Homo sapiens: one gene and its partner. The protein of the gene in region 1 interacts with the protein of each later gene in a biochemical or structural test. Each region holds a gene or a part of one and is shown on either strand. Other genes may lie near its edges.

The links. Proteins that work in one complex are often made in the same cells at the same time.
Region 2: the proteins of PEX5 (region 1) and AGXT are reported together in a solved structure, tested with the Homo sapiens proteins (2 studies listed by BioGRID and IntAct, with this or other methods).

The regions. Positions count from the first base shown.
Region 1 is NC_000012.12:7,206,673-7,213,082, forward strand, and holds the end of PEX5 (peroxisomal biogenesis factor 5), read left to right. Parts: intron 1-986; coding exon 987-1,130; intron 1,131-1,337; coding exon 1,338-1,408; intron 1,409-1,784; coding exon 1,785-1,997; intron 1,998-2,332; coding exon 2,333-2,498; intron 2,499-3,010; coding exon 3,011-3,168; intron 3,169-3,349; coding exon 3,350-3,551; 3' UTR 3,552-4,787; downstream 4,788-6,410.
Region 2 is NC_000002.12:240,871,652-240,878,823, forward strand, and holds part of AGXT (alanine--glyoxylate aminotransferase), read left to right. Parts: intron 1-1,327; coding exon 1,328-1,398; intron 1,399-2,326; coding exon 2,327-2,411; intron 2,412-3,457; coding exon 3,458-3,553; intron 3,554-4,283; coding exon 4,284-4,353; intron 4,354-5,885; coding exon 5,886-5,981; intron 5,982-6,370; coding exon 6,371-6,499; intron 6,500-7,062; coding exon 7,063-7,170; 3' UTR 7,171-7,172. UniProt on the Homo sapiens protein: Peroxisomal aminotransferase that catalyzes the transamination of glyoxylate to glycine and contributes to the glyoxylate detoxification.

The DNA of each region.
Region 1 (6,410 bases):
CTGGTAAGATTTAAGTGTTTTTGATTCTTTATCATTTTCACAATAATAATGAAAAAGGGCCTCATGTCTTTATTTTGTACAGTTTTATCTGAATTTATTCTTAACTGCATTTAGAAAGACCTCCACCTGTTGTTTTGCATCTTGTTTTCGTTCTGGTGTATTATTTTATGATGGTAACTACTCTCCAAAAACGGACTTTTTATTTGCATGTCCCAGATTTTGCAGCTTACTAGTGACTTCCCCTTTACCTCATTTCTTCTCTGCCTAGTGTAAAATGCCAGTTGACAAAGCTTTGCAGATAGTATCGTAACTCTTCTCTAAAGTGAGAAATCCTCAGCTGGAAGAGAATGGTGTCTTTCTGAAGTATTCTCTGCCATCTGGATTTTGGGATCCAGCTTTTGCTTACTGTCAGATACAGATTAATATTCATGATTATTAAGAATGAAATCGGGGAATAAATTAACATTTTCAAAATGCTTGAAAATGTTTTATCTAGTTGACATGTGGAATGACTCTGAGCTAAGTAAGAGTTATATTTGAATAGCAGGACTCCAAACAACATTTCCTTTATACATCATCACATTATTGAAGGATAACAAGAAATGCACTTTGCATAGCTAGGGACACTTTGTCTCATTACTATAAGCAGATCCTGTTGAGACATTCTGCCCCGTGGTGAGAAGTCAAGGTGTGGGAATACAAGCCTGTGATGACTTCCTAAAATAAGCTTATTTCCAGCGCAGATGAATTTGTAGACTTTCCTAGCTTCCCAGGTATCATGAACAGGAGATGGGAGCACAAACCTGATACCAAATGATTTTACTTGTGTCATACATGATCTTTATAATATGGAGAATTTGCCAGCAATTAATTCCGGAACCTGTTTGGAGGCCCTCAGCTTCTCTGCCTGCTGGTTGTCATCCTCACATCCCTGCTGTTCTGACGGTGCCACCTCTCAGTCCATCTCTCACGTGCTTTTCTTGTAGGGGTACCAGTTTGAGGAGGAGAACCCCTTGCGTGATCACCCTCAGCCTTTTGAAGAAGGGCTGCGGCGCCTTCAGGAGGGGGACCTGCCAAATGCTGTGCTGCTTTTTGAGGCAGCTGTGCAGCAGGATCCTAAGCACATGGAAGTGAGTGACTCCATAGTCTCATTTCTGGCTAGAGACTGCTTCCTCCATCTTGAGAAAGGCCCCAAGGAGAGTAGTGCAGATGGGTTAGGGCCTGGGTGATGGCCTAGGATAGGGGCTTGAGAGCGAGATGGTGAGTGGGAGAAGCCAGGGGGAAGGGCGAATGGAGAGGTGAATATGGGGTGATGGAATCTGTCAACTTCCCTCTAGGCTTGGCAGTATCTGGGTACCACCCAGGCAGAGAATGAACAAGAACTATTAGCCATCAGTGCATTGCGGAGGTGAGTACACTGAAAGGTGTGGGTGAGGTGCTTCCAAGGCTCTGCATATAACCTTTTGAATGACAGAAGCCCAGACCTGGATCCTTGTCTTCTTTCTGAGTGCTATCAAGAGTGTTTTCTCATGCTGAAACTCTGAGGGTTGGAGTGAATTCCATTCCTTCATCGGCTTTTGATTTTATTTGCGGCTTTGGTTGGCTCCTTGCCTGCTAAAACCTTCCCCTTAGATCTGTAACTTTATTATTAACTCATGTCAGAGGAGTCACAGGTGAGGCCATTGTGACTCTGCATTTCAAAGCTTGGCTTGGATCCCAGGGTGCTCACATGTGCCAGTGTCAGTCATTGCAGATATCAAGTCTGCCCATCCCTGATCAAACAGGTGTCTGGAGCTAAAGCCAGATAACCAGACAGCACTGATGGCGCTGGCTGTGAGCTTCACCAACGAGTCCCTGCAGCGACAGGCCTGTGAAACCCTACGAGACTGGCTGCGGTACACACCAGCCTATGCCCATCTGGTGACACCTGCTGAAGAAGGGGCTGGTGGGGCAGGACTGGGCCCCAGCAAGCGTATCCTGGGATCTCTCTTGTCTGAGTGAGTATGAGGGGTTCCTAGGATGAGGAATTACAGTAACCTAAGTCCCAGTAGGAGGGTGACCTTGGTTTTGGAAGTTTGGATGGATTGAGACTGAAGGGTCCTGAGAATGGGATGGGAAACCTAGGATCAAGTTGAAGGAGGTCTGCATTCTACAGTTCAGTGCTAGGATGAAATAGAAAAACAGGCTTCTATATTGGACTTTGAGAGTAGAAGAGATGACTGATAGATTGATGAATGTTGGGGATATGGTTGATCAATGAAGAAATTAATTTGGGGGGATGGGAATAGAGACATTCATCTACCTACTTTGTGTTTTTTTCCTTTTCATCCAGCTCCCTGTTTCTTGAAGTGAAAGAGCTCTTCCTGGCAGCTGTGCGGCTGGACCCTACCTCCATTGACCCTGATGTGCAGTGTGGCTTGGGAGTCCTTTTCAACCTGAGTGGGGAGTATGACAAGGCCGTGGACTGCTTCACAGCTGCCCTCAGCGTTCGTCCCAATGTGAGCCCAGGGGAGGAATGGAAATGGGACATGACTGTGTACCTTATTGAAGAGCCATTTGTTGGGAAGCTGGGTTTGATGGTGCATGCCTGTAGTCCCAGCTACTTGGGAGGCTGAAGTGGGAGGATCACTTGAGCCTGGGAGTTCAAATCCAGCCTGGGCAACATAGCAAGACCCTGCCCACCCCCACAAAAAAGAATAATTTGTTCAGACTTTTGGAGTCTTGGGGTATTTCATTCCAGTGTTCCATGTACTGACTGCCTTGGGAGGACTGGGAAAAGAAGGCTGGGAGTGTAGGGTCATCTGGACATAAGAGAGTCTGCATAGGGTGAGAGGGGCTACATTGTAGCCACACACCGAACTGTTGAGAATGGAATGGGACGAAACATGTTAGCTAACAGAGTAGTGAAACAGCTGGAGTAATGTGCAGAGTTTGAGCTGAGTCGGTGGAGTAATGTGCAGAGTTTGAGCTGAGTCAAGCTGTTCCCATCCGTTCTGCATCCCTATCCCAGGACTATTTGCTGTGGAATAAGCTAGGCGCCACCCTGGCCAATGGAAACCAGAGTGAAGAAGCAGTAGCTGCGTACCGCCGGGCCCTCGAGCTCCAGCCTGGCTATATCCGGTCCCGCTATAACCTGGGCATCAGCTGCATCAACCTCGGGGCTCACCGGTGAGAGTATCTATTGAGAAATGAATGAATGAGCTTTTTCTCCCTGCCTTTGGCCCTAGCTCCTTATTCTTAGATCCTGTTTGACTAACCAGCCCTAGCTTTCTCCCTCCCACTGCTAGCTGACCTGCTTCCTTCCATTGTTGTTCAGCTTAACAGCTCTCATTCCTCTTCTTCCTTACAGGGAGGCTGTGGAGCACTTTCTGGAGGCCCTGAACATGCAGAGGAAAAGCCGGGGCCCCCGGGGTGAAGGAGGTGCCATGTCGGAGAACATCTGGAGCACCCTGCGTTTGGCATTGTCTATGTTAGGCCAGAGCGATGCCTATGGGGCAGCCGACGCGCGGGATCTGTCCACCCTCCTAACTATGTTTGGCCTGCCCCAGTGACAGTGGGACGGGCTGCCCTGTGAGTGTCCACCTGGAGGGATCCCCGCTTTGGATGTGATTCCCTCTCCCCAAATGGGCCTACCAAGGGGGCGGGCTGATGACCATAAGCGGTACGGCCTTTCAGGAGCTGCCTCAACGTAGGGGTGGGTAGTCTGTGTTCTAGTTCCTACATAATTGTAGGAAAATGAGCTGTGTCATCTCTGAGTCCCTTGGTAATTCAAGGGCTGTACATCCAGCTACAGATCTCTCTGCTCATCATGCCCTTTCTTGGTGCTGCTTTTTGGGTAGGACCCCACGATTTAGGGTAACTGTTATCATCAGCTGCCATTTCTGATAGGGTCTACCACATCTGTAATGTCTGTCCTTTCCCCCACTTTTACTGGGAATTGATAGTCCAGCTTCCTTGGGCAGTGTAAGTAGGAGGTTCATCTGCTGTGCGCCTCTAATGTCTGTCTGGATGGGATGTGTTAGGAGTTGGCCTGTTGGGTTGAATTGTTGATTTGGCTGAGCAGAGCTGAGTTTTGGTAGGAGTGCTCATGGTTCTGTCATTCTTGGACCTCTCCTGGCTGAGCTCTGATTCCCTGTGAGCACGATGCTGATGCAATAGTCCTGTGTCATCACTGCAGCGGTCCTCAGGAGCTGCCAGGGCCAATTGCTACAGAGTGTCTGGGTGTGTGGCATAGGAGGAAGGTTTGCTTGTGAAATGAGGCTGGGTGGGAGCGGGGAGGGACTAGATCAGAAGAGATCAAGGGCTCTATTCAGGAACGTTGGTGGGAGGACAGAGCAAGTGGGAAGGGGGTATGGTGAGTGCGGCAATCCCTCATCCTCTTAGAAGCACCTGTGAATGGGAATTGAGCCAACTGTTATAGAAAATTGGTTCAGAAAGTGCAATCTTGCCAGATTTCTAGCAAATAGGTTCAGTGTTACCATAAGCCTTTGCTGTACTTCTTGAAATGTTTCTAGGGGAGAGCATTGGAAAATCCCCTTCCCCCATCTAGATCGAAGGAAGATGAGGGAGCAGCTTGGATTCTTCTCAGTTGTCCCCTGCATGGGGAGATACACTAACCCCCAGAAATGACTGCTAAGCCTCTTGCCTTGTCTTTAGTAGCTAATGATCAGAGAGATTTTTTTTTTAAACTACCATGGTCCCAGGATTCCATCCTGAAATTTATTTTTCTTTGTATGAATATGTGTAAATGATTTAAAAATAAAACTGTAAAATATTTGTACGAAGAATAAATGGAACTGATGTGGGTATGAGTTCTGCTGGTCATGAAGCTGGGATGGCAGAAGGTGAGTTGGCGTTTGGAGGACTGGGATTCAACAGTTTCTGCCTTTCAAATTCTCACTGGTATATTGGTTACCTGCTCATCCCTCTAAAAATGATAGAGCACAGGAGACAGGGTCCCTGTTCTCTGGGCCTCTGGGCTAGCAGGAGAAAGAGATGTCGATAATCATGAATTTTTACTCCTGTTACTACTACAAAGGAAAGTGTGCAGTGCCATATAATTGTTAGGTTGTTTTGTATTATGAATTACATGGAAGGATTTTGATAGTTTTTCAGTGCTTAGGGTTTCTAAAGCTTTTCATCTGGCTCTGCCTGCCTTTATCGGGAACTGTATCAAGTGCCATATCAAGATGGGTATTTATCCTGAGGAAAAATTTAAAAATATACACAAATATTTATACTTGGAGATAGATGTTTGTGGGCACATTAGACTTGGAAAAAAAATTTTTTTTTTTTTGTTTTTTTTTTTTTAAGGCAGTGTTTCACTCTTTTTGCCCAGGCTGGAGTGCAATGGCGTGATCTCAGCTCACTGCAGCCTCCGCCTCCTGGGTTCAAGCGATTCTCCTGCCTCAGCTTCCTAAGTAGATGGGATTACAGGCATGTGCCACCACGCCCAGCTAATTTTGTATTTTTATTAGAGACAGGGTTTCATCATGTTGGTCAGGCTGGTCTCGAACGCCCGACCTCAGGCAATCCACCCACCTCGGCCTCCCAAAGTGCTGGGATTACAGACGTGAGCCACCGTGCCCAGCCAAAAAAAAGTCTAACTTTTAAATTTATTTAAAAAGTTTTTCAAATAGAGACTAGATCTCACTATGTTGACCAGGCTGGTCTTGAACTCCTGGCCTCAAGGAATCCTGCCTCAGCCTCCCAAAGTTCTGGGATCACAGGGAGGAGCACCATACCTGGCCAAAGTCTAATTTTTTTTTTCCGGTGAGCTCAAAAGCTGCCAGAAAAAAAAAAAAAAAAAAAAAAAACCCAAAAAACAAAAAAAACAGGTCTAAAAGACAACTGGGTAAGTAAATTGTCCAGACAGTGAAATATAGCTATTGCTATTTAATCATTTATGGAATAATTTCCAGTGACAATAGATGCTAACAATATAGTGAGAAAAATGGTTGGTCAATTATTTACAGATTGTCTTAAGAAAAAAATGCATTGAAAAGACAATAGGGAACTATCCCAATGTGCTAAAAGTGGGGAGATCATACTTCTCTGTAATTCTCAAATTTTCTTGGTGCATGTTTGATACTTTTCTAGAGGAGAAAATTAAACACCTGGGGGAGGAAAACAGGAAGCTGTTGTGGCACCTGTCACCACCTGGGGGATCACGAGGCAGCTGGTGTCTTGGGCTCTGCAGGTTGGTGGTGCAAAGACCCAGGCGGGAAGTGGGCTGGGCAGGTGGAGGAGCAGTTTCCACACTACATAGGTGCAGGACATGACAAAGTCTGGCTGTGTAAATGACTTAAGAATTAAGCTATAAAATACCTAGGAATCCAACTTACAAGGGATGTGAAGGACCTCTTCAAGGAGAACTACAAACCAGTGCTCAAGGAAATAAAAGAGGATAC
Region 2 (7,172 bases), on another chromosome or scaffold:
TGCTCCCTGGCCGAGCGCCCCCATAGTGCCCACTGACCTCTGTCCCCAGGGCTGAAGAGGGCTTGGTGCAGACTTCCATATCTTGCCAGGGCCTGTCCCCACCTCACCCCGAGATTGCCAGGACACTAAAGCTGCCTGATGCCCTCCACTTCCCTCCTCCAGCCTCCCTCATCCCCGCATGGGGGTGCACAGGGCAAGGCCTTGAATGGAGTCAGATGGGATTCCTGAGAAATGCGGACAGAGCCCCTTGGGACCCAGCAGTCCCGTCTGCAGGTCTGAGCACAGGACAGAGGAGAGAAACTCCACGGCCAGGGAGGGTCCTTCTGACAGGGCCCCCAGCCCAGACAGCTTGCTGCATGGACCGTGGCCATGAATAAAGCTCACAAACATAACCTGGCCAGCTTCAGCAACACCCAGGCCATCCCCACCTGCGGCCAGCACGAGATACTTTCTGTGTCTCTTTTTTCTTTATAAGAAAACCTGGAGGTGGAGGAGGGTGAGAGTTTGTGAACATGGAGGCGGAGGAGGGTGAGAGTTCGTGAACATGCAGGCGGAGGAGGGTGAGAGTTCGTGAACATGTAGGTGGAGGAGGATAAGAGTTCGTGAACATGCAGGAGGAGGGTGAGAGTTCGTGAACATGCAGGAGGAGGAGGGTGAGAGTTCGTGAACATGGAGGAGGAGGAGGGTGAGAGTTCGTGAACATGCAGGCGGAGGAGGGTGAGAGTTCGTGAACATGCAGGTGGAGGAGGGTGAGAGTTCGTGAACATGCAGGAGGAGGGTGAGAGTTCGTGAACATGCAGGAGGAGGAGGGCGAGAGTTCGTGAACATGGAGGCGGAGGAGGGTGAGAGTTTGTGGCGCTGCTGCTTGGGCTGTTCTGGGACTCTGTCCCCTCTGGCCTAGATTCTGGCCAGTGGCTGGGCCGAGCAGCTGTTGGCAGAGGTAGGCCCAGCCTGGTGCCACCCTGGTCCCTGGGGTCCACACAGGCCCTCAGGCACCCGCTGTCCCTGGGAACCACAGACTGCCCGGCTGACCCTCTTCAGCACCACTGCCGGGCCCTGCAGCTGGGTCTCACCAGGGCCGTGATGCTCCCTCACTCCCCCAGCTCCCTCTGCTCCAATGTTCAGGGCTGAGAAAGGAAGAGCCACAGGTCCTGATGGATCCTGACAGGCAGGAGAAGGCAACTGGCCAACTCCTGGGGTGGAGGTGGGAGGTGCCCTGCCTTCCTTGCCAGCCTGAGGCTCAGAAACCCCATCCAGCCTGGGGCCAGGCCCTCCAGTGGCCCCCTGCCTCACCTGCTGCCCTCCATTCTGTCCCCCACCTCTCCAGGTACAAGTGCCTGCTCCTGGTGGATTCGGTGGCATCCCTGGGCGGGACCCCCCTTTACATGGACCGGCAAGGTAAGGGTGGGCTCTGAGAGCCCTACCCAGCCCAAGCAGCCTTGGGGCTCCGCGTGCAGGAAGCCCTGCTGGAAGCGTGCGTCCAGCAGCCGATGCTGCGGATTCGGCCCCATCTCCACCAGGCCCAGGGAAACACTCACTCCTTACTGCGGCAAGAGCGGCTCCATGAACTACCCAGCACCCCAGTGTTTCCACTGAGCTTTCAGATCCAGGCGTGGGGACTGGCAGGAGGGACAGCTTCTGGTGGGGGACATTTGAGATGCCCCAGAGCTGTAGCAGAAGCAGTGGGAAGAGGAAGGGCCAGGGCTCCAGTCAATCAGGCGTTGGGCACCCCTCTGCCCAACCCCCCAGAGGCTCAGTTTCACATCTGCCCTGCGCCCTGCCAGGCTGCCCATAGCAGTGAGCACCACTGTCAGGGTCACCTCGCAGGGAACCTCAACCAGGCCGGCCGAGGGGCCAAGGAGCCTCCTGTGCCCATCCGCTTACGGGAGAGAGCCTGCACATTGCATCCACTGCGGTGCCTGCCCACCCACTCCATGGGAGCCTGTCTGTTTCTGCAGAGCCCCTCCTGATTTGGGAGTTCTCAGGCAGGAAGGGAGGGATTTCTGGGCTGATCCTCAAACTACTACTGAAAGCAGGGACCTGGGGAGGGCCCCAGGGACACGGTGCCTGGGGTGGCAGGGCTGTCCCTGGGGACCAGCACAGCAGAGGGAGAAGCTGCGCTAAAACGCTCAGGCCTGAGGTCATGGCTGCCACGCAGCAGTGCCCAGATTTGAACCCAGGACTCCCTTCCACATCTCCCCTGCTATCGTGTACGGATTCGTGGTAGGGTCGTAGCCTACCAGCCCATTAGCTAGGCAGGCATCCCGCTGGACTGGCCTGCCCTGAGGTGGGACTCACCCGTCCCGAGCAAACCACCCATCTACAGGCATCGACATCCTGTACTCGGGCTCCCAGAAGGCCCTGAACGCCCCTCCAGGGACCTCGCTCATCTCCTTCAGTGACAAGGCCAAGTGAGTGACCCACAGACCCTCACCTCTGTGCAGGGCTGGGCTTGCAGGGAGCTCAGGTGGCCCGAGGCGGGAGGGGCGGGAGCCAGGCAGGAAGGGCTCCCCATGCTCCTCCAGCACCTGGCGCTCTCCCGCCCACCCTCTGGGAGGCCAAAGGCACTGCGTTCACAGGGAGTGGGGAGGCCGGGCGAGGGGAGGGCTGCAGGCGTGTGCAGGGTGCAGAGTCCACTGCTCTGGAAGTTCCCAGCTTCACAGCAAGGAGTGACCAGGAAAGGACTGAGGGCCTGAGGCCCAGTGCCCTGACCGGCCTCTGCCCTGGCTCAGCTTCCAGGGGCTGCCCCAAGGGACAACGTGGGCCACACACAGTGCCCCCTGCAGTCCCAATCTCACCTCCCGCTCCTGGTGTCCAGATTCTGAGCCAGGCCGGGCAGGGGGTAGGGGAAGGGGGCCAGACCTCACAGGCGGTTCCCATCCAGCTGCAGCCTGGCAACTGGAGGTGCCGTTCCCCAGAACAGAGAGGACTTCGGGGAGAAGTCAGGAATTCGGTGTTGGACGTGGGAGGTCTGAGATGCCAGCTGGACCACACGGGAGGGTGAAGGAAGCGGCTGGGTGTGAGTCAGGAGCCTGGGGAGAGGCCGGGGCTGGCCCCTCCATCTGGAGTTGTAGAGACGGACACATTTAAAGTTTCAAGCCTGGCCAGTGTCCCCTGGGGCCCGAAAGCAGTCACCTTTGGGTGATGTGAGAAATGAAGGCTGACCCTGTAGGAGGGGCTGGGGGAGAGAAAGGGGCACACAGAGTGGAGGGAGCTGGCCTTGGTGCCCCCATGGCAGGGTCACACAGCTGGGCCCAAGGGCCAGCGGGACTGGACAGCTGAGGGACCCACGACCCACCCGGTCCCACTCTGGCCCCTGAGCACAAATGCAGCTGGGGCGGGCCCTCCTGGGGGCCCCACCCCGTCTCACTCCCGTGAAACAGGACAGCCAGCGAGACTGCCCTGGCCTTCAGCCCAAACTGAGAGGCTGGTGCTCAGCCTGCTTCTTTCTCCCCAGAAAGAAGATGTACTCCCGCAAGACGAAGCCCTTCTCCTTCTACCTGGACATCAAGTGGCTGGCCAACTTCTGGGGCTGTGACGACCAGCCCAGGATGTGAGGCCTGGCAGGGATGGGAAGGTGGAGGGCGCTGGGCATGGCTGAGAGGTGGGGCGCTGGCCTCTCACTGCACTCAGGGATTCTCCAAGCCCCCCACCTTCATGCCTCAAGAACCCCAACTAGAGCCCCAGAATCCGCCTGCATCAGGCAGTCAAATGCCCCACCCTGGGTTCCCCCATTCCTCGACTGGCCCGAGGCTCTGGGCAGGGTCATGGCCCCCACTGCCGCTTCCACAAACACTGTCCCCCCAGAGGTCCCAGCACACCCTCGGGCACTTTGGACCTGGCCCTGCCACATCTCCCCACTCCTGGGCCTCAGCTTACCCCTTCTGAAAAGACGACCTTGGCCATAAACCCAAGGCCCCTTATGTTACACACAGGAACAAGGCGCCAGGAATGGTGCCCTAGCCCAGTGGGCACAGAGGGCCAGTGCCGGCTTCGCAGGCACGCTGGGACTGAGGGGCTCCGCAGGGAGGTGGTGGCACGTGTCTCTGCTCCTGCAGCCACCCACTGCCTCCTGGCTGGGCCCTACACAAGCCATGCTCTCCCTGGCAGACGAAGCTGCCTTCCCGGTCCAAAGTTCTGAACCCGGACAGGACTCCTCTGCGGAGGATACCGGCCTGTGGTCAGAGAGCCTGTGCTGTTGGGGCTGGGGCAGACAGAGCTAATGCCCCATCTGCCCCCAACCCTGCCCATGGTGCTGGACCAAGCCCCCTCGTGTCTTCCAGGTACCATCACACAATCCCCGTCATCAGCCTGTACAGCCTGAGAGAGAGCCTGGCCCTCATTGCGGAACAGGTGCATGGGCTGCACTCCACAGGAGGAGACAGGGCCACTGGCTGGATTGTCGAGGGCGCGGCCTGCAGAGAAGGAACCATCCCTGGTGCACAGAGAAAAGGGAGCCTGCCAGAGAGAGGCCCTCAGTGGGGGTGGGGGAGAGAGGACAGGGCCCCGGGTACACTGGCTGCGGGCAGGGCCAGGGGGATACAGCCCCAGGGACAGATGCAGCAATGGGGCAGGTGTGGATGCTCCCAACCCTTCCATTGCTGTGTGAAGCAGTAAGTGAGGCCCAGTGAGTGGGTGGGCTGGGAGAAGGGGAGGCCGAAGGGGCCAGAGATGTGCCCACAGATAGGTGGGCGTGGATGTAAAGTGAGGGTTGGCAGTTCCTGCAGGCTTGTCCAGCTCCTATGGCAGGGCAAGAGCTGAGCATGAGCACTTGGGTGTGACCAGGGGTTGATTTGGCCACTGCAACATCCACACTCTCAGGACACTGCAACATCCACACTCTCAGGACACAGGCGGCTGAGAGTGGCCTCAGGCCCAGCAGCTCTGCAGGCCACGAGACAGGAAGTCCCACCTACTTTCATCTGGGTCCTGTGTCCCACAGGGCCCATTGCCAGCCACCAGTCCAGAGTCCAGGAAGGATCCCCGGGCTGCAGCCAGCTTCCCATGAGGTTGCAAGGCCGTGCCTGCCACGTTTGTCCTCCTGGGTCCACTCATAAAGCCACTGCCTAGGGCTGGGTTAGTGCCAGGGTGCCCCTGTAAGCTAAATGCCACCCGCACCCGCGGGGGAAGGCGAGGGGTCAGGCGCTCACACAGGGAAAGGCTCTAGGGTCGTAAAGGTGGGTGGGGGGTGTGAGCTGGGCAGAGAAGGAAGAGAACAGGACCAGACAGCAGGGCACAGTCAAGGGCAGAGGCACAGGGACCTGGCAGAGTGCAGATTGCAGGGGCACATGCGCAGAGAAGACGGGCCAGGGCCAGAGTAGAGAGCAGCTGCTGCTCCGGGGACCCACCTGGGGTGGCCATGAGAGCTGGTGGCTGGAGGCCGGGAGGACCCGTGACCAGAGGTAATGGCACTGAGGGGCCCAGGGCTGGAGAGACCACCCCTCACCTGTCCAGAGCTGAGGCAGGAGCAGTGCTGCGGAGGATGCCAGGTCGGGGGAGCTGGCCCTGAGAGGAGAGGGGGCCTGGGAGCCAGCACCCTGAGCCCTGGCCCTGATCCACTCCAGCCCTGTGTAGCCCAACAGCCCTTCCCCTCCTTGCCCAGTCCCCTCCCCCTGCAAGGCACTCTCCACTCTTCTCCCCCAGGGGCCACAGGCAGACCTCCCCTCTGTCTCTCTGAACCCTCCTCTGTCTCTCCCAGACCCAGATGTTTCCTTCTGCCCTGGGGTAGTCCCAGGCCCTGCCCCAGGCAAAGTCAAACTGGGGGCTCCAGGGGCTCCCCTGCACCAAGGCCTGCAGAGTCAGGTTCTTCCTCCCGCACCACAGAGGGCGGGGCTTCCTGCCCACCCCACCCATGTCACTGCCCACCAGCGCCATCTCCCACACAGGGCCTGGAGAACAGCTGGCGCCAGCACCGCGAGGCCGCGGCGTATCTGCATGGGCGCCTGCAGGCACTGGGGCTGCAGCTCTTCGTGAAGGACCCGGTAAGGAGGCCCCTGGCATTGGGCAGCCCTGCACCCATGGGGAAGGATGAGGGGCTCTTGCCCAGCCCCCTCAAGAGGGACACTGGCTCCTGAGAAGGAGGGGGCGGCTGCCCGGTGGTGTGGCCTCGGTGCCAGGGATTAGTCTCGGCAGGAGCCACGAAGTCACAGCTCCCGGCCTCTGATGCGGGATCTCAGGACGGCCTGTGATCTCCCAGTGGGAAGGTGCCCATCCACCGCCTCCTAAGGGGTGGGGTCCCTGCTCTCTCCCGGCCCTTTCTCCCCCGGCTCCTCTGGAACCTGAAGCTGGGGCAGATGGTGCAGGCCAAGAGCTGTCACAAAGGCCCGTACAGGGCCTCTCACCCACGCACTGAGCCAGGCCCCTCCTGCAGGCGCTCCGGCTTCCCACAGTCACCACTGTGGCTGTACCCGCTGGCTATGACTGGAGAGACATCGTCAGCTACGTCATAGACCACTTCGACATTGAGATCATGGGTGGCCTTGGGCCCTCCACGGGGAAGGTGAGAGGGAGCGCCTCGAGGGCCTTTTGCAGAAACCAAACCCGCCACCCCTCCTTGAGCAGGACTGTGCACCAGGTGCAGGGGAGGCCGGGGTCATCCGAAAGCCCAGATTGCAGGAGCGTCCAGAAGGGCCCACTCTCCAAGGGGTATCCAGTAAAGCGTATCCTGTCGCCCCTGCTCCCACCCCAGCCCACTGAGGTCACCAGGTGCAGCCTTTATGATTCCACTCGGAACATCCTTCCTTCCCTCTGACCAGACCCTGGAACCAGGCCGGAAGCCCCACGCCTGGGCCTGGCTGTGTCTCTGAGTGGCAGTGGGGAGGGACCTTCACTGCACCACCCTGTCCTCCCGTGTGGCTGCGGGTGCAGAGGGAGGAGAGCCTGCCCTGGCCTGGGTGCTCAAGGGCCCCCTCTGTGACCTGCACAGGGCTGTCAACTCCCCTCATGGACGCTGGGTGGGTGGTCCTCACTCAGGTGAGCCCATCCTGGCTCTGGCCAGCTGTCGGTCAGGGTCAGGCAGGTCCCAGGCGGGAGGCTGACGTCAGCCCGCCCTGTGCCCCCCAGGTGCTGCGGATCGGCCTGCTGGGCTGCAATGCCACCCGCGAGAATGTGGACCGCGTGACGGAGGCCCTGAGGGCGGCCCTGCAGCACTGCCCCAAGAAGAAGCTGTGACC